3 separate regions of the Homo sapiens genome follow, and regions 1 and 3 are each linked to region 2. The links come from fine-mapping of genetic effects on gene expression. A gene starts in region 2. Each other region holds a variant in brackets. All regions are shown on one strand. Distances are between the middles of the regions. Region 1 overlaps TRPM6 (transient receptor potential cation channel subfamily M member 6). Region 2 holds the start of C9orf40 (chromosome 9 open reading frame 40). Region 3 overlaps CARNMT1 (carnosine N-methyltransferase 1).

The links.
Region 1: its variant is fine-mapped to the expression of C9orf40 in whole blood (INTERVAL, PIP 0.95).
Region 3: its variant is fine-mapped to the expression of C9orf40 in blood mononuclear cells (TOPMed, PIP above 0.99).

The regions. Positions count from the first base shown.
Region 1 is chr9:74,877,130-74,885,138 of GRCh38, reverse strand. All of the region lies in intron 1 of TRPM6 (transient receptor potential cation channel subfamily M member 6), which reads left to right. Among named protein-coding and RNA genes, the nearest start is that of TRPM6, 6.8 kb to the left of the region's middle. The variant G/A (reference allele first, on the strand shown) is at 3,135.
Region 2 is chr9:74,949,312-74,957,320 of GRCh38, reverse strand. C9orf40 (chromosome 9 open reading frame 40) reads left to right here and starts at 4,409. Exons shown (of 2, transcript NM_017998.3): 1 at 4,409-5,135. The coding sequence starts at 4,710. CARNMT1-AS1 (CARNMT1 antisense RNA 1) reads right to left here and starts at 4,356. Exons shown (of 5, transcript NR_121183.1): 1 at 4,204-4,356. RefSeq lists silencers at 4,428-4,637, 4,908-5,117 and an enhancer at 5,448-5,517.
Region 3 is chr9:74,991,872-74,999,880 of GRCh38, reverse strand. It overlaps CARNMT1 (carnosine N-methyltransferase 1), which reads left to right. Exons shown (of 8, transcript NM_152420.3): 4 at 11-151; 5 at 1,105-1,283; 6 at 3,321-3,434. It overlaps CARNMT1-AS1 (CARNMT1 antisense RNA 1), which reads right to left. Exons shown (of 5, transcript NR_121183.1): 5 at 2,499-3,883. Among named protein-coding and RNA genes, the nearest start is that of CARNMT1, 32 kb to the left of the region's middle. The variant T/A (reference allele first, on the strand shown) is at 3,929.

The DNA of each region.
Region 1 (8,009 bases), 72 kb after region 2:
GTTGTCTCTCTGTGTTTGCAAAGTTTTCACCAATTTAACCACAAGTTCTTTGTTAGTTGTCTAAATCTTCCCTCAAGATGTCCAATGCAACAGCTATTTGAATCAATTTTATTTCTATCACAGCTTTCTTACCTGCTTTGCCAGTCCAGACTGGTTGCTCTTGATGTTTGATGCACAGCTATTACCTTGGGCTCTCTCTTCACCATCATTTGGGGACTGATTCACTTTGCATCTCTGTTATGCTGGCTCCTGTTTCCTATATCCCACACCTTAGTCTTTTTTGATTTCTTCTATCATTTTGATGGAGCACATTCTCCAGTAGCTTTCTAAGAAAAGGTACATGTAAGGTAAACAGAATTGAATATGTTTTTTTCCTTGATTGTGTATCACAGAAAATAATTCTCCAGATGTTTTTCCCTTAAAAACTTTGTCACTAACAATATAAAAATAATTTCTTGTTGTAAATAATTCAAATACTACAAATAGAAATCCAAATAGAAAGTTCCCTTTCTACCCCTCAACTACTCCCCCTCTGACCCAGAGGTAATCAAACTGTTGATTTGGAGCATATTATTTAGATGTGCTTTTATATACGTATGTATGTATGTATGTATGTATGTATGTATGTATGTATATATGTATTTATTTTTGAGACAGAGTCTCGCTCTGTCTCCCAGGCTGGAGTGCAGTGGCACGATCTCAGCTCAGTGCAAGCTCCGCCTGCTGGGTTCACACCATTCTCCTGCCTCAGCCTCCCGAGTAGCTGGGACTACAGGCACCCGCCACCACGCCCGGCTCATTTTTTGTATTTTTAGTCGAGACGGGGTTTCACCTGTTATGCAGGATGGTCTTGATTTCTTGACCTCGTGATCTGCCCACCTCAGCCTCCCAGAGTGCTGGGATTATAGGTGTGAGCCACTGTGCCTGGCCATACATATGTATTTATTATTTTGATTTGTGCATTTATTTATTTATTTACTTTATTTTTTGAGATGGAGTTTTGCTCTTGTTGCCCAGGCTGGAGTGCAATGGCACAATCTTGGCTCACCACAACCTCTGCGTCCCAGGTTCAAGCGATTCTCCTGCCTCAGCCTCCCAAGTAGCTGGGATTACAGGCATGTGCCACCATGCCCAGCTAATTTTGTACTTTTAGTAGAGACAGGGTTTCTCCATGTTGGTCAGGATGGTCTCGAACTCCCGACCTCAGGTGATCCACCCACCTCGGCCTTCCAAAGTGCTGGGATTACAGGCATGAGCCACTGCACCCGATCTATTTATTTTAATTTAATTTTATTTTATTGAGATGGAATCTTACTATGTTGCCCACGCTAGTCTTGAACTCCTGAGCTCAAAGGATCCTCTTACCTCAACCTCTCAAGTATCTGGGATTACAGGCACATGACACCGTGCCTGGCTTTGCATGTGTTTTTAAATAAATTGAATCATATTGTATATATTGATCTGTAACTTGTTTCACTTAACAGTAGTTCCTGTAGATTTTTCCATGTCAATACACATTAGTGCCTTCTTGAATAGTATGTTCAGATGAACTGGAGTGATCAAGATCATAGGTATAGCATTTTCTCTTCACAATCAGTCACAAATACTGACCGAGTGTTATGTGCCAAACTGTCTTCCAGAATCTGGGAATATACAGTGAATAAAACTTTTATTTTTGAGATAGAAAGGGATAGTGAGATGCTTCTCGATGAAACTGAGCTCAGTTTCAGCTTTAATTTGGTTTTCCTTTCCTAGAGTGCAAATATACAATCACATCTCTTTTTCTCTTGGTATAAAATCACAATCATTAAAAATTGAGCTAAATACCTGTTGTGCCACCAGACCAACAGAACAATACCACTGACATAGAAATAGATTTTCTGGATGGATAAACAAAATATGGCATATATACACAAGGGAATATTATTCAGCCTTAAAATGGAGGGAAATTCTGACACATGCTACAACATGGATGAACCTTGAGGACATAATGCTAAGTAAAATAAACCAGTCACAAAAAGATAAATACTGTATGATTCCACTTATGAGGCATCTATAGAAATCAAATTCATACAAACAAAAAGTGGAATTATGGTTGGCAGGGCTAGGGGAGGGGAAATGTTTAGTTGTTTAATGGGTATAGAGTTTCAGTTTTTCGAGATGAAAAAGTTCTGGAGATTGGCCGCACAACAATGTGAATATACTTAGCAAAACTGAGCTACACACTTAAAAATGGTTAGGATGGTAAATTTTACATTATATATTTTACCACAATTAAAACAAAAATGGAAAAAGAGATTCTCACACAGACTCCTTTGTAGTGGGCTTTGTCTTATACTTTGAATAGGTGGTTGAATCTGCTTTCAGCTGGATGAATACTCAGTAGTGGGAATGCAGGATTGAATGGTAATTCCATTTTTAGTTTTTGGAGGAACCTCCATTACTGTTTTCCATAACGGCTGTACTAAATTACATTCCTATCAACAGTGTATGAGGGTCTCCTTTCTCTGCATCCTTGCCAGTATTTGTTAATTTTTGTCTTCTTTATGATAACCATTTTAACTGGAGCGAGATGATATCTCATTGTGGTTTTGATTTGCATTTTACTGCTGATTAGTGATGTTGAGCATATTTTCATATGCATGTTGGCTGTTTGTATGTATTCGTTTGAGAAACGTTGATTCATGTCCTTTGCCCACTCTTCAGTGGGCTTATTTGTTTTGTGTTTACTGTTGAGTTGTTTGAGTTCTTTTAATATTCTGGATATTAGTCCCCTGTCAAATAAATAGTTTGCAGATATTTTCTCCAACTCAACAGATTGTCTCTTCATTTTGTTGATTGTTTCCTTCACTGTGCAGAAACTTTTTAGTTTAACATGGTCTCATTTGTGTATTTTTGTTTCTCTTTTTTCTTTTTAACCAACCAAGAAGCACTGAATCAGTTGTGTACTTTTGTTTTTGTTGTCTGTGCTTATGAGGTCTTAGCTGCAAAATCTTTGCTTAGATCAATGTCCTGAAGTGTTTCCGTTATATTTTCTTCTAGTATCTTTATAGTTGAAGTCTTGCATTTATGTCTTTAATGCATCTTGAGTTGATTTTTGTATATGGTGAGAGATAGGAGTTCAGTTTCATTCT[G/A]CTGCATATAAATATCCAGTTTTCCCAGCATGATTTATTGAAGATGATGTCCTGTAACCAATGTATGTTCTTGATGCCTTTGTCAAAATTCAGTTAGCTGTAAAAATGTGGAATTACTTCTGTGTTCTCTATTTTGTTCAATGGTCTATGTGTCTTTTTATACCAATAGCATGCTGTTTTGGTTACTATAGCTATAAGAATACTTTTGTACAGTTTCCAAAGTTCCTCTTATTATTGATTTCTAGTTTTACTTTATCTTGTGGTCTGAGAAGATACATGATATGATTTTGATTTTTAAAAATTAGTTGAGATGTGTTTTGTGTTTTACCATATAGTCTATTCTGGAGAATGTTCCACATGCTGATAAAAATGTGTATTCTGGAACTGTTGGATGAGATGTTCTGTCAATATTTATTAGGTCCATTTGGTCTAAAGTACAATTTAAATATTATTTTAATTTTCTGTTTAGATAATCTGTGTAATGCTGAGAGTGGGGTGTTGAAGTCCCCAACCGTTACTGTATTGGAGTCTATTTGTTCTGTTTGATCGAATAATATTTGCTTTATATATTGGGGTGCATGCTTTGTTAGGTGCATATATGTTTAGAATTGTTATACTTTCTTGCTGAATTGATTGCCTTATATAATTATAATTATATAATTACATTTTTTGTCTCTTTTAACTTTTTTTTTACTTAAAGTTTGTTTCATCTGATATAAGTATAGTTATTTATGCTTGCGTTTGGTTTCTGTTTGCGTGGAATATCTTTTTCCATTCCTTTACTTTCAGTCTATATCTGTCTTTATAGGTGAGATGAGTTTCTTACAGGTAGCATATAGTTGGGTCTTTTTTTTCAATTAAAAAAATTTTTTTGTAGAGATGGGATCTCGCTACGTTGACCAGGCTGGTCTTGAACTCCTGGCCTCAAGTGATCCTCCCATTTGGGCCTCCCAAAGTGCTAGGATTACAGGTGCAAGCTACCACGCCCAGCCAGGGTCATTGTTTTTTTCCAATCCATTCAGCCAATCTATATGTGTTAAGTAGAAAATTTAATCCATTTAGTTTCACGGTTATTATTGATCTGGGAGCACTTATTCTTGCCATTTTATTAATTGATGTCTCGTTGTTTTGTATATCCTTGGTTCTTTTCTTTCTCTCTTATTGTTTATCATTGTGGTTTGGTGGTATTCTGTAGTGGTAACATTTAAGCACTTTTACTTCCTTATTTGTGTGTTTGTCCTATTAGTGGGTTTTATACTTTCGTGTATTTTCATGATGGTAGATACTGTCTTTTTGCTTCTATGTGCAGGACTTGCTGAAACATTTCTTATAGGACTGGTTTAATGGTGATGAATTTCTTCAGCTTTTGCTTATCTGGGAAAGACTTCACTTCTCATTTATTTATGAAGGATAACATTGCTAGGAATAGTATCCTTGGATGGCAGTGCTTTTTTTTTCGGTATTTTGAATATATCATTGCATTCTCTCCTGGCTTGTAAAGTTTCTATTGAGAAATTTGCTGTTAGTCTGATGGAGGTTCCTGTATAAATCACTGGACATTTTTCTTTTGCTGTTTTTAGAATTTAGAATTCTTTCAGTTTGACTATAATGTGCTCTGGAAAAGATCTTTTTGAATTGTATCTTTCTGGCAATCTCTGAGCTTCCTGTTTCCGGACGTCTACATCTCTTGCTAGACCTGGGAGGTTTTCAGTTATTATTTCATTAAATAGGTTTTCTGTTCCTTTTGTTTTCTCTTCACCTTCCAGAGCACCAAAATTTTGAATATTTGGCTTCTTTATGGTGCCTCATATGTCACATAGACTTTATTCTTTAGATTATTTTTTCTTTATTTTTGTCTGTGTCAGGAAAAATCCTCATTTCTCCTCTACTTTTACACCACAACAATCAGCACAGAGGACTCCTGTGACAAATATGTGTGTGGGAGTTTTCCCATCACATCAAGCAGCGGATGCCAGGTAGGTGTCTTCCAATTCAGTTCTGACACTATCTACCTGAAGATAGTGCCAGATCACACAAGTTGGGGACTCATTCCCCAAGACTACATCTGCCTCCTTCAGATGGAACTTCTAACTGACTGGCTTCAAGTTGGGGTTCCCATGACCTCCTCTTTGGATTTCATTAATTTTGCTGGGGCGGCTCACAGAACTTAGGGAAACACATTTGCTGGTTAATTATAAAGGATACTACAAAGGATATAGATGAAGAGATGCACAGGGCTAGGTATGGGGGAAGGGTTGCACAGCTTCCATGCCTCCCTGGGCATATCACCCTTCAGGAACCTCTATGTGTTCAGCTATCCAGGAACTCACCAAACCTGGTCCTCTTGGATTTTTATGGAAGCTTCATGATGTCAAAATTTCTTCTCCCAGGGTATAGGGTGGGACCCTCTCTGGGAAGGGACTTAAGGCCCACAATCAGAAAGGAGCAGAAAGATTAGAATCCTGCATTGGGCCAGGTATAAGAAAGGCAGGAGACAAATTCTGTTTCCTCAGAACTTCCCCTGAGGCCTAACACACCTGACATTATAACAAAAGACTCAAAGAAAGGATATGGGAGTTATTAACAAGGAACCATGGGTAAAACCCTATATATATCCATGGTTCCTTTATATATATAAAATGGTTCCTTGTTATATATATATGTATATATGTATATAAATCATATATATATAAATCATATACAAATATATGTATTTAAATCATTACACCACATTGACTGGGTTATTTCATCACACTTGTTTTCAGGTGCTCATATTCTTTCTGCTTGATTGAGTCTATTGTTGAAGCTTTCTAATATATTTTGTATTTCATTCAGAGAATTCTTTAATTCTAGAATTTCTTTTGGTTCTTTTTTAATGATATTTATGTCTTTTGTCAATTTTTCATTTGTATCCTGAATTTTCTGATTTCTTTGTATTGTATTTTCAAGTTCTCTTGTATCTCACTGAGCTTTTTAAATAAAACTTTTTTAAAATTAAAAAGAAATTTTTTTTGAGATGAGGTTTCACTCTGTTGCCAAGGCTGGATTCCAGTGGTACAATCATAGCTCAATGGCAGATTGAACTCCTGAACTCCTGAGGTTGAGTGGTCCTCCTGCATCAGCTTCTCAAGTAACTAAGATTACAGGAATGAGCCACCACACCTGGCTGAGCTTCTTTAATGTCATTAGTTTGATTTCTTTTTCCTGGGTTTTATGAATTTCTTCATTGAAATCTATTGCTGGAGAATTATTATGTTCCTTTGGAGGTATCATATTTCCTTGCTTTTTCATGTTTCTCGTGTCCTTACATTGATATCTGTGCATGTGGCATAACCATTGCTTCTTCCAATCTTTTGAATTTGCTTGCACGGGGGGGATTGTATTCTGAAGACGTTTATGTGGCGGTGTTTAGGTAGGGCACTTTGGCTTTGATTCTGGGTGTGTGCAGTAGTATAGTCTCGTTATGATTTCTTCAGCTATAAACAGTGTCAGTAGTGTCTGAGATTTGCTCAGTGGCTTCAGGTGTGATTGTTAGTGGAGGCTTTGGTGAGGTTTTGCTGGGGATGGGGACATAAGATGGGCCAGTCCTTGGGCCCTAGTGGTGATAGCAGTGAGCTGAATGTGCCAGTCTTTGGGCCCTTGGGTGGCATATGCTGACACTGGTGTTAGTAGGGCCAGGTGAGCTGATTCTTGGGCCTGCAGGTGACTTTCTTGGGTGCTGTCAGTGGCAATGGTGGGAAGGGCAGGCAGGTGTGTCCTTGAGCCCCTGGACAGTGGGTGTGGTGTGAATGATGACAGTAGCAGTGGTGAGACAATCCTCTGGTTCCCAAGTGATCCATGCTGGTGTTGAAATTGACTGTGATGGACTAGGTGGGTCAGTCCCCAGGCCTGCAGGTGGTGTGCGTGTGGGTGCCAGCTGTGGTGTTGGTGGCAGGTTGGGTGAGCCCATTCTCAGGTTTCTGGGAGGAGAGCTCAGGTGCCAACTGTGGTGGGTGGGGCAGGTGATCCCTAGGCCCCTGGATGGTGTGCTCCAGCACTGGGTGGGATGGAGTTGGACAGGGTGGGCTTCTCCTCAGGCCCCTCATGGTGCATGTAGCCACTGGCTGTGGTAGGAGGGGTGAGGTGATCCCCAGGCCCCTGGTGGAATGCCTGAGTTGGAGTGGCAGCGGCTGCATTGTGGCCCTGCTGCTGGGGAGGGCAGAGTTGTTTCAGTGGCAGAAGCTGTAAACAGGCAGCAGGGGAAAGCTAGCTTGGCTCCAGCTGGTGGCTTTAAATGAGGCTGCCTTTCCTCAGGGCATTTTTAAATGTGTGGTGACCCCAATATGGAGCATGGTGGGGTCACTGCCAATGGCTCATGGTTTGGCCCTGTAGGCAGCAGCAAACAGTGGAGGTGGGCTGTGGGCAGGGGATATCAATGGGACTCCAGGGATATGGAGATGTGGGGCTGTTGGGTCCCAGGATAGGATGCAGTCTGGTGGTGGCTGGACTCTAAAAATGGCACCTTGCTGTAGCTGCTTAGAATTCATAGTGTGCGTGGAACTCAGTGTGAGCTCCCTCCCTGGAGCAATGCCATCACATGGTCTCCAGGCAGCTCCCTGTTAGTCTCAGGGCCCACTGGAGTCCAGGTGCTTTTTTCCTGTGGCTGCATTGTATATTATTTGTCCATTAATCAGTTGATGGATATTTGTGTTGTTTCTACTTTTTGACAATTATGAATTATGCTGGTATGAACATTTGTATACAAGTTTTTGTATAGACATGTGTTTTCATTTCTTTTGGGGCGATACCTAGGAGTGGAATTTCTGGGTCATATGATAACTCTTGTGTTTGTCCTTTTGAGGAAGTGCCAGAATTTGTTTCAAAGCAACTGTATTA
Region 2 (8,009 bases):
CTGTTAAACTGGCAATAATCTGCCCCAAAGTTTTTGGGATCAAATGAGATATGTAAAAGTTCTGGCAATTAAAAAATTTTAAACTACTTCCCCACCCTACACTGCTGTGAGGCTTCAGTTAGTCTGAAACACACAAGTTTAAAGATAAGCAGAATAAGTTTGTGTGTATTCCTTTTTCAGTAAGAAGAAAAAAAGTTTCCCTTCTTTGTTGTTTTGTTGTAACTAATGACTTCTGAGTTATTATCCACAAAATTATGGGATATGTAGAATAGGTAGAAGATCCTATTACATCAATAAAAAATGCATTTAGATAGGGCAGGGGGAGGGGTGCAAGGTATTTATGTTTTACATAAAGTGGTACAATGTTAGCTCGAACTAGACTGTGAAAAAATAAAGATGTATATGAACAGTCCTTATGGCAACCACATTATTAATTCAAAGAGGTATAGCTAAGTAAATACCAATAGGTTAACTTAAAATGAAATTCATAACGATAGGAAGGAGGTAGAGTAACAAGAAAGGAAATTTTGAAAGTATTTCAAACTGAAAGATAATAAAAATACAACATACCAAAATTTGTAGGATGTAGCCCAAGCAGTGCTACAGGGAAAGTTACAGCTTTAAGTGTTTATTTTAGAAACTAACAAAGACGGCTGGGCACGGTGGCTCACGCCTGTAATCCCAGCACTTTGGGAGGCCGAGGTGGGTGGATCACCTGAAGTCAGGAGTTTGAGACCAAGCTGGCTAGCATGGTGAAACCCCACCTCTACTAAAAATGCAAAAATTAGCCAGGTGCGGTGGCATGCACCTGTAGTCCCAGCTACTCGGGAGGCTGAGGCAGGAGAATCGCTTGAACCTGGGAGGCAGAGGCTGCAGTGAGCCAAGATCGTGCCACTTCACTCCAGCCAGAGTGACTCTGTCTCCAAAAAGAAACTAACAAAGACTACAATCAGTGACCTAGGTTCTATTAGAAGAAGCTAGAGAAAGAAGAGCAAAGTAAATCCAAATTTAGTAGAAGCCAATGAAATGGGAAAAAGAGAAACTAAGAAAATATTCCAACAAATGTGATGAATGAAATGGACAAATTCCTTGAACAAGTGGATCTGGTACTACTTACAACTTAGGGTAAACTAATTTCAAATTCTACTTCTGGGGCCTTAAAAAAAAAAGAACCCAGAGCAGCAACAAAAACTCAGAAAATGTTATTTAAAAAGAAAAAGAATATTGTCTACAAAAATTATAAAGTGCCTAGGGATAAACTTAACAAAGATATAAGCTCTTTATGTTGAGAAATATAAAACTTTATTGAAAGATTTTTAAAAACTTAAATAGTTATATTCTTGAACAGGAAATGAGCTTGGTATTGTAAAGATAATAATTCTTCCCAAATTGATCTATAATCTCAATGCAATTATAACCAAAATTCCAAAAGGGTAACTAAATGTTACAGAGGATGCTATTATGGAAGAACAAAGGGCCAAGTATAGTTGACACACTCCTAAAGAACAAGATGTCAAAGACTGCTCTCAAAACTTTGATCATCTTGATGGTGGTTATGGTTTCACAGGTGTATGAATGTCAAATTGTACACTTTATATGCACATTATTGTGTGTCATTTAGACCTAGGTAAAGCTGTTTTAAAAACAAAAACAAAAAAAAGCCCGGCAAAACAAGCCTGGGCAACATAGTGAGACCTTGTTGCTACTAAAAATAAAAAATTAGCTGGGTGTGGTGGCACAAGCCATGGGCCCAGCTACTTGGGAGGCTGAGGCAGGAGGATTGCTTGAGGCCAGGAAGTTGAAGCTGCAGTGAGCAGTGATCACGCCACTACATTCCAGCCTGGGCAACAGAGCAAGACCTGGTCTCAGAAAATATATTAAGCTGGGTGTGGTGGCTCATGCCTGTAATCCCAACACTTTGGGAGGCCAGGGCAGGCAGATTGTTTGAGTTCAGGACTTTGAGACAAGTCTGGGCAACGTGGCAAAACCCTGGCTCTACAAAAAAATTTTAAAAATTAGCTGGGTGTGGTGATGTACACCTGTAGTCTCAGCTACTCAGGAGGCTGAGGTGGGAGGACTGCTTGCCCCTGAGAGGTCAGGGCTGCAGTGAGCTGTAATCATATCACTGCTCTCCAGCCAGGGCAACAGAGCAAGCCCCGTTTCAAAAAAAAAAAAAAAAAAGTTATTTAGCAATATACATACAGACATACAAATGGAAGAGTTAAAAAGCAAAGGAATGATTAACTCAACATGTAAAACGGTAATTACCGGGAGTGAGGGAAAGGGAAGGGTATGTGCCAGTGGGGAAGGGACGCATAGGGAGCTTGTCATGTTCTAGTATAGGTAGTATTCTATTTCTGAAACAGAATGCTGTATGTCTTACTATCATTCTTTTAACTACATGTGTATTTTATACAACCTTTTGCATATATGATAAGTTTCACAATTTTGAAAAAATGAGCGTTTGTAAAGAGGAACACAAAAGAACCAACCATTAGCTAAACTTATTATTTTGGGGGTACTCAAAACCTTTCAAACAGCACTTGATGACTACGATTAAGATCTTTCCTGCTGATTTAAAAATGGCAAAACTCTTCCTCTGTTTGAGACAGACGGGTTTTCAATTTATTTTTTTTTTTTTGGAGACAGGGTCTCACACTGTCACCCAGGCTGGAAGTACAGTGGTGCAATCTTGGCCTCTGCCTCCAGGGTTCAAGCGATCCTCCCACCTCAGCCTCCCTGGGACTACAGGTGCAAGGCACCACCTCTGGCTAATTTTTGTATTTTCTGTAGAGATGGGGTTTCACCATGTTGGCCAGGCTGGTATGGAACTCCTGGGCTCAGGTGATCTGTGCACCTCATCTTCCCAAAAGTGCTGGGATTAAAGACGTGAGCCACCGCACCCGGCCGGTTACCAATTTCAAACAAGAAAAGTAAAAACCAAACAGAAAAGCTATTGCTTACTACCCTAACTTGGTACATTTCTGTGCTTGTTAATAACTAATAATTAACTTGTCCTCTCACAACCACCTTGAGATGCAGGGGTACAGGGTAAATTAGTACTGAGATAGTACCTAGCACTAAAATAGAATTATCTTTCTTGCACACTTTTTCTACAGAGGATGATAGTTTTTCCCTTCAAAGCACTGGTAATAGTCTTATTTTCTTCCTTCCATTTCTGCTTACTTGGTTACTGTCTTTATCAAACTATTAAAATAGTAAATACGACCAGATGCGGTGGCTCACACCTATAAACCAAGCACTTTGGGAGGCCCAGACAGGAGATCGCTTGAGCTCAGTGGGGCCCGGCTGCAGTGAGCCGTGATGGCACCACTGCACTCCCGCCTAGGTGGCCGAGAGAGACCCTGTCTCAAACAAAATAAAAAATAAAAATAATAAAATAGTAAATATACTGCAATTGTCTCCACCTCACTTCACCTGACAACACTATTTTGCTGTAATGGCCATAGAATCTTGATCTGACCACCGCCCATAGTAAGCAGGGAACTCAGCCTTCCAACATTAATTAAGAGCCCAACAATTTTAGGTTTCAGTTAGAAAGGACAGCTGCGCTTCAGGCTTGGTTCTTGCCAACTACTCAGCTATTTTGGATGAGCTGCACATTTTGTCTGTAACTTCCTCCATAAGTTTTTAATCAAGAGATCTTCCAGGAATGTAGGGCCTGCTTCACCTTCCACAGCAGCTGCGCAAAACATGCAAAACATACACTTCGATTTGTGTTTTCTGTTAGCTTTAGCTACTTCCCTCAGCCCAGACTCCCTTCAGTCTTTTGTTTTGAATAACAACCTACTGTGAAGCTTCTTAAACACTAGTTTTATTTAAAGCTTGTATTATCCTTTTCCTTTTTTTTTTTTTTTTTTTTGAGACGGCATCTCGCTCTGTTGCCCAGGCTGCAGTGTAGTGGTGCGATCTCTGGCTCACTACAGCCTCCACCTCCCAGGCTCAAGTGAATCTTCCTCCTCAGCCTCCCGAGTAGCTGGGACCACAGGGGCAGGCCAACAAGCCTGGCCTATTTTTGATTTTTTGTAGAGACGAGGTCTTGCTATGTTGCCCAGGATAGTCTGGAACTCTATTATAATCTTTGTCTTAATCTCATGGAGACGCCCCCGTGGTCACTGACTGGAGGAAGGAAATACACATTTTAAAGGTTTTAAATTTCCTATAGAAGGGTCTAGAACGTACCGCGCTATAACGAACATAGTAGTAAGACCACCGCCACACTCCTGAGGAAACAAGGTCACGCCCCTCTGCGGGCCGCTTGATCGGGTCTTTAATTAATCCCGCCGCGGCCTTCCCGCCTACCCCCGAGCGCGCACTTCCGGTCGCGAGGGCGCTCGGGAGCGCGCCCCGCGAGCCTCCACCAACCAGCGGCTCCGCCTGGCCAGACAGAGTGCGCGCGCGCACGTTGTGCGCAGGTTCGAATCTCCGCCGCTTCGCGGTTGCTTCTCAACGTCCGGGCCGCATCTCGGCGGCGGCGAGGGCTGAGCGCGGGAGCTGCCTCCGAGCCGGAGCCCCAGCCCTAGGCCCTGCGCGAGCTGCCCCGCCCTACCCCCTCCAGCGTCCTGTCGCCTCCTCGCCCGACTTCGGCCTGTCCCTCTCTCACGCGCTCAGTCCTCGCTCTTCGCCCCCCGCAGCTATCGGCACTCGGTCTCCCGCGCCTGGCGGGCTCCGCCCGAGCCTCTGGGCCCATGGCCAAGCGGCGTGCGGCCGAGCCGGTGACGTTCCACGTGCCTTGGAAGCGGCTCCTGCTTTGCGACTTCGCTGAGCAGCCGCCGCCACCGCCTCTCTGGATCCGGCCGCCCGGGGTCGCGCATGCTGGGCAGCTCCTCGGCGTCCCAGAGCAGCACCGAAAGCGCAAAATCGACGCAGGGACCATGGCAGAGCCCTCGGCTTCGCCCAGCAAGCGCCGTGACAGCGGGGACAACAGCGCCCCGAGCGGCCAGGAGCGTGAGGACCACGGTCTGGAGACAGGCGATCCGCCGCTGCCGCCGCCGCCCGTACTGCCGGGGCCGGGGGAGGAGCTCCCGGGCGCCCGGCTCCCGGGGGGCGGTGGCGACGACGGGGCGGGGCGCGCAGGACCCCCGCGGGGAGACTGGGGGGTCGCATCGCGCCAGGTAGGGGCTGGGGGCGGGTGGGCTGAGGGGCGAAGGGGCTTGCCTTTTCCCCACACACACAAAACGCCCCGGTTCCCACTCATGACTTGTGTAGGTTAAGACGCCTGAGGGGGTTGAAAGAAGGGGTCACCGCTCCGGGAGAGGACGCCGACCGCCAGAAGCACACCCCGAGAGTCCGATGGGCAGAAAGCACTGGGCTGGGCGAGGGGGAAACAGACCGTGGTCGGGAGCGATAGAAGTGGCCTTGCGGCGTCAGCGCCGCGCTCCGTAAAAGGGAAACGGGACCGTGGGTCGTGGCGGGCTGTGAGCATGGCGAGAACGCAGACCGTCAGGGCATAGGTTCAGCCCAAAGACAAACGACAGATAAAGGTGTAGAGGGCCTTCCTGGGTTTAACGATGATTAGTCTAGAATTCGGGATAGAGTTCTTTTTCTAGAGGGAGACCAGTGTGGTAGCCATTGATTAATTGAACGTCCTACCGGCTGGTACAGCTTCTGGAGAAAAGGATGGACCACCGTACCTTGGTCAAAGCTTTGTTTTAACTCATAGTGTTAAATCTGATCCTAGGCAAAAGTATCATTGAAAATTAATTTGGGGGCGGGGCGTGGTGTCTCACGCCTGGAATCCCAGGACTTTGGGAGGCCACGGCGGGTGGATCACCTGAGGTCGGGAGTTCGAGACCAGCCTGGCCAATAGGGTGAAACTCTGTCTCTATTAAAACACAAAAACTAGCTGGGTGTGGTGGTGTATGCCCGTAATCACAGCTACTCGGGAGGCTGAGGCACAAGAATCACTTTAACCTGGGAGATGGCGGTTGCAGTGAGCTGAGATTGGGCCAGTGCACTCCAGCCTGGGCCACAGAGTGAGACGCTGTCTCAAAAAAAAAGAAAAGAAAAGAAAGAAAAAAGAAAATTAATTTGGGCCTTAAGGCGTATATGAGAATCATTGGCGGGTTTTTATTCAAGACATGAGCCTGCCTCATCTCTGCATGTAAGAATCCTGAGAAGATCTAGGTATGCCTCGGTTTGCCTAGATCTCTGCTGCCCGGCCGCTAGCCGGTAAGAACACTTGAAACGTGACTAGTCCAAATGGAAATGTGCTCTAAGTTTAAAATATACACGAAATTTCGTGGATTTAATAAATGAAGATAAAATAGCTCAATTTTATATTGATTACACATGAAATAACTTGGCTATATTGAAGAAAATATATTAAAATTAATACCAGAAGTTTCTTTTACTTTTTAAATACAGCTACTAGAAAATTTTAAATTATGTTTTTGGAGCATTATATATTTATTGGACAGCTTTGGTCTAGACTTAGGAATTCATACTACTTTTTCACAATCCTGAATGGCAGGGGACTTGGGAGATGAAGAACCAAGTACAGGTTTCTCAGAATTCACCAAATTCTCTTCAGCTGTCTGATAGCATCCTCCCAACGTTTTTCTATTTTCTCAAGTATCTTATGTCAGGGTTTTCAAATACCTTTCCAAAAAAATAAATGAAATTTCTTAGGCATGACTTGTTCATGTGAAAAATCCAATAAAATAACGAGAGTTTTATAGTTGGGAAAGACTTTTTTTTTTTTTTTCCTATGGTTGAAACATGAGCCTTATTTAAACTTTTTCTTCAGATTGCTCTCAGATATTCAAAATCAACTGAAAACAGATGGATAGTCTTCTAAACCATCCATCCATAATGGATATGGAGATTAGGGACTGTGTAGTTTGAAAACTTTTTGAAAGCTCTTCAGACCATTTTAGTACTCCACTCATGCATAGGCTTGTCTCCTACCAGAATACAGAATACACTGTCTATACTATGCCACACAGTGATAAGAGGGAAATATGGAAATGGCAGTAGGCAAAGCGTAAGAGTTCTCTAGTAGCCTGAAACGGTGATGCTTGCTTAGTCTTAGACTCAACTCTTTTCCCCCACAGCAGTAACTAGATCTGGCAGCTCTCTACTTCCTATAGTCGCTGCAAGCGCATGACAGGGAAAAAGGTTGGCTCCAGGGGTTCTTTCTTCACCAAGACTACCCTTGTTCTCTTTGTTGTTTTTTAAAAAAGGGTCTTGGGGTCTCGCTCCCATGCCCAGGCTGGAGTGCAGTGGCACCATCCCAGCTCACTGCAACCTTAGCTTCCTGAATAGTTGGGACTGCAGGTGCACACCACCACGCTGGACTAATTTTTTTTTTTTTGTGGAGATGGGGTTTTGCCATGTTACCCAGGCTGGGCTCAAGTGATCCTCCCGCCTCTGCCTACCAAATAGCTGGGATTACAGGCGTGAGCCACTGTCAGGCCCTCTTTTGAGGAAAGCCCAGTAACACTCCTATTCCTTCTTTTTGTTAGATTTGTTCTGGAGGCGCTTCTCTTTTACAATCATGCTCTCTCCAGCTTCTGTTTCTCCTTCCTGCCTCCAAAGACACAGGCTTTTTGTTTTAAGGATTTTATACCTGATTACCAAGGGAAAATTGAATATAACAAAAAGAAGTAAACAGTTCAATACAGTAAATGCCTGGTTTCTTTTGTGCTCAGAATAGGGCTTAAGTCCCAGCCCTCACCCTTGGGACTTCATTTAGGAAATACTACCTCAAATACCTTTTTTCTACATTGAGAATACAATCTAGGCAGGATAATGTTACGTCATTTCTGTCCCGGAACTTCAGGGTATTTCCTGTTTCAGATGTTTTTTGACTACAGAAATAAAATCAGGTATTCATTAAATATTCATGTATTTTTTTCATGTTAGTGTCACTATGTAGATTCACTGCTCTGTCAGTGTTAACTGTTAGTTTCTTGTTTATTTGTTTGTTTTTCATAAATTGAGATGGAGTCTTGCTTTGTTGCCAGGGCTGGTCTCAAACTCTGGGG
Region 3 (8,009 bases), 43 kb before region 2:
TTCATTTCAGGGATCCTTCTAAAGTAAATATTCTGGTACCTGGTGCTGGACTAGGAAGACTGGCCTGGGAAATAGCTATGCTAGGTTATGCTTGTCAAGGAAATGAATGGAGTTTTTTTATGCTCTTTTCTTCCAACTTTGTACTCAACAGGTATTTAATTTATTTTTTGCTGGAAATAGTAATTTCTCAGAATCAGATTGACTTACCTATTTTCTTGAACAATTTTGAATTTGAAGATAAGTACATAGCATTTGATTATTATATATATCACAAATGTGTCTTATGTTAAAATCAAAGTACTTACACAAATTATCACTTGAACCAATTGCCTAGTTATTAGAGTGTTGAAACAAGATGGGTAAGTGACTTTATAGAAAGTGACTGGGCATTCCATGAAATGATTTCTGTACAAAATCTTCAGGACTAAGTATGAACCAGGAAGGAGTATTTCTAAATTTATTCCTTAAGCTTCTTTACTTCCTTGTTTCTTTAGTTAAATAAGAGTTTAGTTTAGCAATTATAACTTTTTCTCCTTAATCAAGTTCTTATAAAATGGCCAAGTATGCTCTCATGACTGAGTTGGAAAGATCTCTCAGAACTTCTGTGGCCTCTTTTGGAAGGCAGTGGAAAACAATTGTTATTTTTAAAGCCAGAAGATGTACATTGAGTAGCTGCCTTGTTTAAATAATATGTTGTCTCGGATGGCAGTATGAGTTTTAGGGGATTGGTGAAAAAGGGAAAAAAGAAGAGGGTTATACAAAAAATAGCAAACTGTTTTAGTTGAAACCAGTACCATTTTAAAAAACCTCGTTGGACTGTTATTACTTGGTTTTGAAGTTTAGAAATACATTTTTAAAAATCTGAATGAACAGCACATTTATATCTCTGAATTTACTTTTTTTTTCTGTCTTTAATCCATTGATTGGTTGCTCATCTACATGTATATGTACATTTTCAGATAATTAGGGAAGCTGTAATAGTGACTCTTTAAATATTAATTATATATGCAAATCTTCAATTAAACAGTATATTTTTAGTATTTAAAGTGGATTTTCTTGGTAAAATATTTAGTTAACACCTGATTTTATACTCATATTTTGCAGATGTTCTGAAATTAATAAATATAAACTTTATCCTTGGATCCATCAGTTTAGCAATAACCGGAGATCAGCTGATCAGATTCGACCCATCTTTTTCCCTGATGTTGACCCCCACAGTCTTCCTCCTGGTTCTAACTTTTCTATGACAGCAGGAGATTTTCAAGAGATTTATTCAGAATGCAGTAAGTCCAAATCAAGCGTTTAAAAAGTCTTGTCCTTTATTCTAAATTTAATGAGCTAGTTTTATCCTAAGCCAAGGTTTAGATCATTCATTTTGATGGTAGAACATAAGGCATATGTCAGTGTCAATTTAGAATGTTTTCAAGGTCGTGTACAAGGCAGTGATAGGAAATAAGAAGTGTAAGATATCTACAGTCAAGAAATTTAGAATCTGTTGGGCCCATTAATACTAAGAGATACCATGTAAACAAAGGTTAAATGAGTAATGAATACCAAAAAAATGAAAGGTTATTAGTGTAAGAAGGAAGCTGTTCATAGTGAGGCTATGACTTGAAGGTTGAGAGAATAGCATTTGAGGCAGACAGAAGTACAAAGATATGAACAAGGTGATTGGGGATGGCAGCACAGCTGTACTGGCAGGGAAAGAAAAGATTTAATGGGAGATTTAATGAGATTTAATAGGAGCTATTGCTAGAAAAGTGAATTTGTTCCAGATCATGGAGGACTTGTATAGTCAGGCTGCACAGTTGACTTCAGCCTGGCAAACTGTTGAAGAAATCTGAGCTAGGCAGGAGAGAAAGGGAGATGGTAATAGGGAAAGTGGAGAGGGAGATTGGCACTAAAAGGAAAGCAAAATAGAATACCGAGGGTTCAGCAAGATCATTGAGTCAATAGGTATTTGTTGAGCACCTACTAAGTACTAGGTATTTTTCTAGGTGTCAAAAGAGAACAGTGAACAAAACAAAATCCCTGTCCACAGAGAACTTCCAATAGAGAAAGTGAGGCAATAACAAATACAATATTGTAAGGAAGAAAAAATAAGGCAGGGAAGACGGGTTACAGAGTGACTGGGGAGAGGCTGCTGCTTTATATAGAGTTGTCAGGGAAAGCCTTTCTAAGAGTAGAAACTAAAAAAAAAAAATGTCTAGTAGAGAACCTTGAAAGAGTACACAGACAAACCACTGAGATATTTGAAGGCAAAATTTTGCAGATGGGGAATGGCAAGGGAAGAGGATCAGGGAGTAGAGTGAGTGCTTGCTCTGCTCAAGGAGGAGCTAGGCTGTAGTAAGCAATGGGTACAGTGGTGAGAGGTCAGCCTCGAGAGGGTTTGATGAGGCAAACTTGTTGGCAGGCCATAGCAAGGACTTGGAATTGTACTCAGAGAAACAGGAAGCCATTGGAGGGCTTAAAGCAGGGATAGCAACAACATAGATTGTTTTTATTTATTTATTTATTTTACAACATAGAAAGTTTTTGTTTATTTTTCTCTGAACTCTGAGACTGGGACAACCTGTACTCTGAAGGAAGAAAGGGAGAGATGGAAGATGTTAGGTGTTGTGGATAAGGAATGAAATAATGGAAAACATCACTTAGGCAAGTAAAAGTCCCCTTTTTCTGGAGCAAGGTTTGAGAGAACAGATGATGAAGGTAGTCCTCCATGGGATCAAGTGCCTTTATTGCACCAGCATTTGTATAGACACCATACCTCCTAGAGGCAAACGGTGTTCTCTACTGGGTTCCCACCCACTGCTTCTGCCTGCCCCTGGCTCCCCTTTTTCCCTGGTAATTATTCGAAGTTGTGGTAGATGTTGAAGTATTTGGATGTCATTCATTTCTCAGTTGGCAACTGGTGCCTGCAGTCTTTCTGAAACCTGCCAGAATTGGTGGTTAACACTAGTTTAAATTTGAATGACTATTATTTTGTTTTAAGTGATTTTAAATGAAGGCTAGAAGTTGAATAGAGGATAAACAAAACTCTAACAAATACCATTTGGTAATAATATGTAGAGATTAGATTATAATATTAGTGTTATTGGGGATGATTTCCAAATTGATTACTTAATCAGATTATTGATATCAGTATTTCCCATAAATGACTGTTTGGTTACTGTAATTATAATGTTGATCAGAAGTTTAGCTTCTGTATCTCTGTCAAATATTAATACTCTGTAAAAGGTAACTGGCAGATTTAAATAATTAATTAAAAGAAAAAAGCAAAATAACATAACAGATGCAGTAATTTGATTTTTCTTCATTAGATACCTGGGACTGTATTGCTACCTGTTTCTTCATAGACACAGCTCACAATGTAATTGATTATATTGATACAATATGGAAAATACTCAAGCCAGGTGGAATTTGGATAAATCTAGGTAAGTTTTTTAGTATTTACTAAAATTTTGTATATTAATCTGAGTACTTACAGCTGTATTACATTTAACTTCACAGTCTCAAATGTGCATGAACATTAGAATTATGTTGTAAATGTTTTAAAACCACTACAGTTTCCTTTAGACTGCATCCTGGTGGTGATCCCTCCAAAGGCAGTGGAAGCTCAGAAGTTGTATATTCACACTTAGGTCAGTCTCACAGTCATTGTAATTTCAGTGTATACTAATTGTTGATCTGATGGTAGGTAATCATTCCCTCATTATCACCATCCCACATGCTGAGACAGTGGTCCGTTCTGTTAGGAAGAGAGTGTTCTCTTTTTCTTTCTATAATGAAGCATGCGGGGAGATTTTACCTCTTCCATGGAATCTTCCTCCCTAGTACATCCATATACTGGGAAGGGTGTAGGTGTGATAACTTCTGTGATTACCTTGAGTTTAAGAAAGAATAGAAACACAATTTTTTTTATGCAAAA[T/A]TTTTTTTTACTGCATTCTACTTACTACTCGATGTTAGAAATTAAATGTTGACTATAACATGGTCCCTCCAGTCCAGAATCTAAAGGAAATTGCCATTTTACTCCTTTTTAAAATAAAGGGGGTATAATGATAATATTCAGGTAGATATACATGTATTCTTTCGTGAGATATATAATCTGTGTTCAGAAAGACATCATGACTAGAACATAAAGGTTTTCAAGATAAGGATTATTATACTACATAAAAGGACATAACGTACATGGTCTTGAGCCCTTGGCCTTCCGGGTGGGTCTAGTTTTGTGACTGATTTCTGACACCTACTCTCTTTTTAATTTTAATTTACCAGAAATTTTGCCATTTGGGACTAAGCCCTGGAGGTAGTAGTAAGTCTTTTGCAAACTTCTCTTAAGAATTCCTTAGGACCAGATGAAAGCAGCTGTACAATGCAATCATAATAAAATAAATATCCCAAACTGTAAGTCTTCTTTAAAAGTAGTTACCTTGGGAAATTTTTCCCAAGGAAAAATGGAAAGATATTACCTACTGGGTATTTGCTTACTGTGGGTTAGGTACTGTGTTGGTCCCTTATAAATACCTTGTGGAATCTCAAAGCAGCCCTATATTGAAATGGCACTATGTTATAGTTGAAGAGACTTAGAGTCTTGGGTTAAATAACTAGCAGAACAGTCCTGTAGCTTACATGTGGCAAAGACAGGCTTGAAGCCCAGAGCCAATTTCTTGATTACCCTCAGTTAATTTGTAAGTTAGCATTAACATGACCCTGTGTTTATATAATTAAATTTTTTGACCCCCATTACTGAGTTATGGTAAGGTTTTATGTATTTCCAGAGCATGTGACTTTCATAGAAACAGCTTTTTTTTTAACATTTGTTTTATTGGTTTATGAATATTTTATTAAGTTATATAATACAATAATTGTAACTACCTGAAGCACATAAAGTTGGCTCCTGATAAGTATACTGTTTGATAAGAGTAGATGTACTATAGTGTGACTTATGATCTGTCATGGGCATCAGAAGTAATGGAGCATGTTGGTTAACAGGAAGTCAATTAGGAGAGCTAATTCCATTATGGAGTCTCAAAACAATTTTGAAAATTGTAATAATGGAGAAACACAGTCCTTAAAAATAGTTATTTGGAAGGTTAGTACTTTATAAAGTATTAACTTACACATCTTTTGCATGTATAAGTTAAAGAATGTAAAAAAAAAAGTCTCAGAATCAGCTTTCTTTTAAATGTTACTGTGTTCTGGGCATCTAATCTGTGTTTTTCATTTTTTATGCCATGTACTCATTTTTGACTCCATATTCCTCCTACCTAATCTCATGGCTTTTCCTACTCTTTGGATTCCCAATCTGTATCTCTGGTCCAAACATCTCTCTTGTGCTCCAAGCCAGTATGTCCAACTTGGGTGTACCACAGATACTTCAAAATCCTTGTGTCTCAAGACCAGCCTGGGCAACATGCCCTGAGACCCCATCTCAAAAAAAAGCCAAAACAAAACAGAAAATGATTCCATGCCTCCCAATATCTTTTCTATTAATCATCTACTCAGGTTACCCTGAAGAAAAATACTGGGAGCCTTTCGTTACCCCTTTTATTAGGTCACTCAGGCTACCATAACAATACCACAGATTGGGTGGCTTAAATAACAAGTTTATTTTCTCACAGTTCTGATGACTGGAATTCCAGGTGCTCACCAGGTTGGTGTCTAGTGAGGGCTCTTCCTTTGATTTGCAGGGGTTACCCTCTTGCTGTGTATTCACATAGCCTTTCTTTGGTTGTGCATAGAGGGAGAAGGAGTGAATGAGAGCATGAGTGAGCTCTTTGGTGTGTCTCTTCTTATAAGGACACTAATCCTATTGGATGAGGACCCCACCCTTACGACCTCATTTACCTTAATTACTTCCTTAGAAGTCCTACTTTCAAATACAGCCACACTGGGGATTAGGGCTTCAACATGTGAATTTGGAGGCAGGGGGACACAAACAGTCAATAGGACCTCTCTTTTTCCTCGCTGTTTGTCTCTAGTCAGTCTAAAAGTTGTATCTCCTAAAGCTACTTAATCGCTCTTGAATATCCTTCTATTCCAGGGTTTCTCGATTGTGGTTTTGACATTTGGGCTGGATCATTCTTCAGTGGGAGTGGTGAGGGAAGTGGGGGTCTGACCTGTATAGTGTAGGATGGTTAACAGCCTTCCTGGCCTCTAAGACTCCAGTAGTACCTCCCAGTTTTGACAACCAAAATGTCTTTAGATATTGAAAAATGTTGCCCTCCGGGGGTGGAGGGTGTTGGCAGAGTCATCCCCAGTTGAGAACCATTGCTCCAATTTCATGGTTTCTTGCCTGGATTAGCATTAGGATTACTGTAGTAATTTCCTTAAGGACGCCCCTGCCTTCAAGTTGTCTTCGGCCCTTTTCATTTCTCCACATAATCATCAGTGACCTTCCTAACATGCAAATCTGTTCCTGTAAGACTCCCTGCATGAAATTCTAGCTTTCTGGAAAACCTAAACTCTTCAGGATTATGTTTTTTACCTTCAGGATTATTTTTTACCACCCCTTCTCTGACCTCAAGTGCCAGTCCTTTGACTTAGCCCTTTCTTTCTCTTCTGTTTTCCCTTGGTTAGTCCTTATGTGTTCTTAAACACTTAGCTCAGGTGATCCTTTCGGGTTGGGTTAAGTATTCTGTATTTCTTATGTTCTAAGAGACTCTGCTGTAACATATACTTCAGTTTGGTATTAGCACCCATATGCTTTTGTTTCCACTGCTAGTCTCTAAGCTCCATAAGGGCAAAGATCTAATGCTTCCTAGTCACCTGGTACAAAGCCTGGCAAACAATGGGTATTAATGACTGTTACATGTATGTATGAATGTATTGTTTCAAAATTTGAAAAAGGGAACATACTAAGATGTCTCGAAGAGATGATGAAGTGCCATCTATATTGGTAAATTCATAACATTCTTATGGTTTTGGCTTTAATTATATAGACCTGGAGGCTTAATTTACCCTGTAAACTGAGAGATCAACCTCTTGGGGATGATTTTACCCTAACCCTGCTTAGGTAGACTAGAACATCAATATATTCATATATAATGGGAAATGTAATGGCCAGCCATTCTGGAACAAATGACATTGGAGGTAAAATTATATATGAAAATGTTGCCCAAACTGCATGAAATCAGATTTGGTGGGGATCATTAATTTACAAATGCTTTAATTAAGGAGGATTTGATGGACTCTTTAACACTACCCAGTTTAAGGAAAGCTAGTAAGCCTTTTAAGGGAACTATTATGCATATGTCCTTTGGGTAAGGCTATGATTTTGGCAAAGAACAAAAGAATGCCTGTGAATTCCCTTTTTCAGTTTTTCATCCTGACCAGCACTCCTTAAACACATTTATTTATAATTTCTTCTAAAAAGAAAGTGTGTGTGTATGTATCCACTGATAAATTTGGGAGTCAGGTAGTGGAGGGCAGGCATTTAGCTACATCTGGAAGAATTAATAAAATGAATCTAACTACATCTGAAGAATTAAAATGTAACTACATCTGGTAAAAGTACCAAAGGAGATCTTTGTAAAGTGTACTGAAAGATAGGTCTTATCAGATTTTAGAGCATTATGAAGCTACAGAATTTTTTTTTCTTTTTTTTTTTTAGATGGAGTCTCACTCTGTCACCCAGGCTGGAGTGCAGTGGTACCATCTCGGCTCACTGCAACCTCTGTCTCCTGGGTTCAAGCGATTCTTATGCCTCAGCCTCTCAAGTAGCTGGGGTTACAGGCGTGCGCCACCACACCTGGCTGTTTTTTGTATTTTAAGTGGAGATGGGGTTTCACCATGTTGGCCAGGCTGGTCTTGAACTGCCGACCTCAGGTGATCCACCTGCCTCAGCCTCCCAAAGTGCTGGGATTACAAGCGTGAGCCACTGTGCCTGGCCTAGAATTTTTTAAAACGAGATTCCCTTTAAAAGATAGATGACTGAACACATACAGCCCTTTCCTCATTATAGTAGTAGTAAAAATATAAAAAGATATAAAACACATGGACAAAGAATG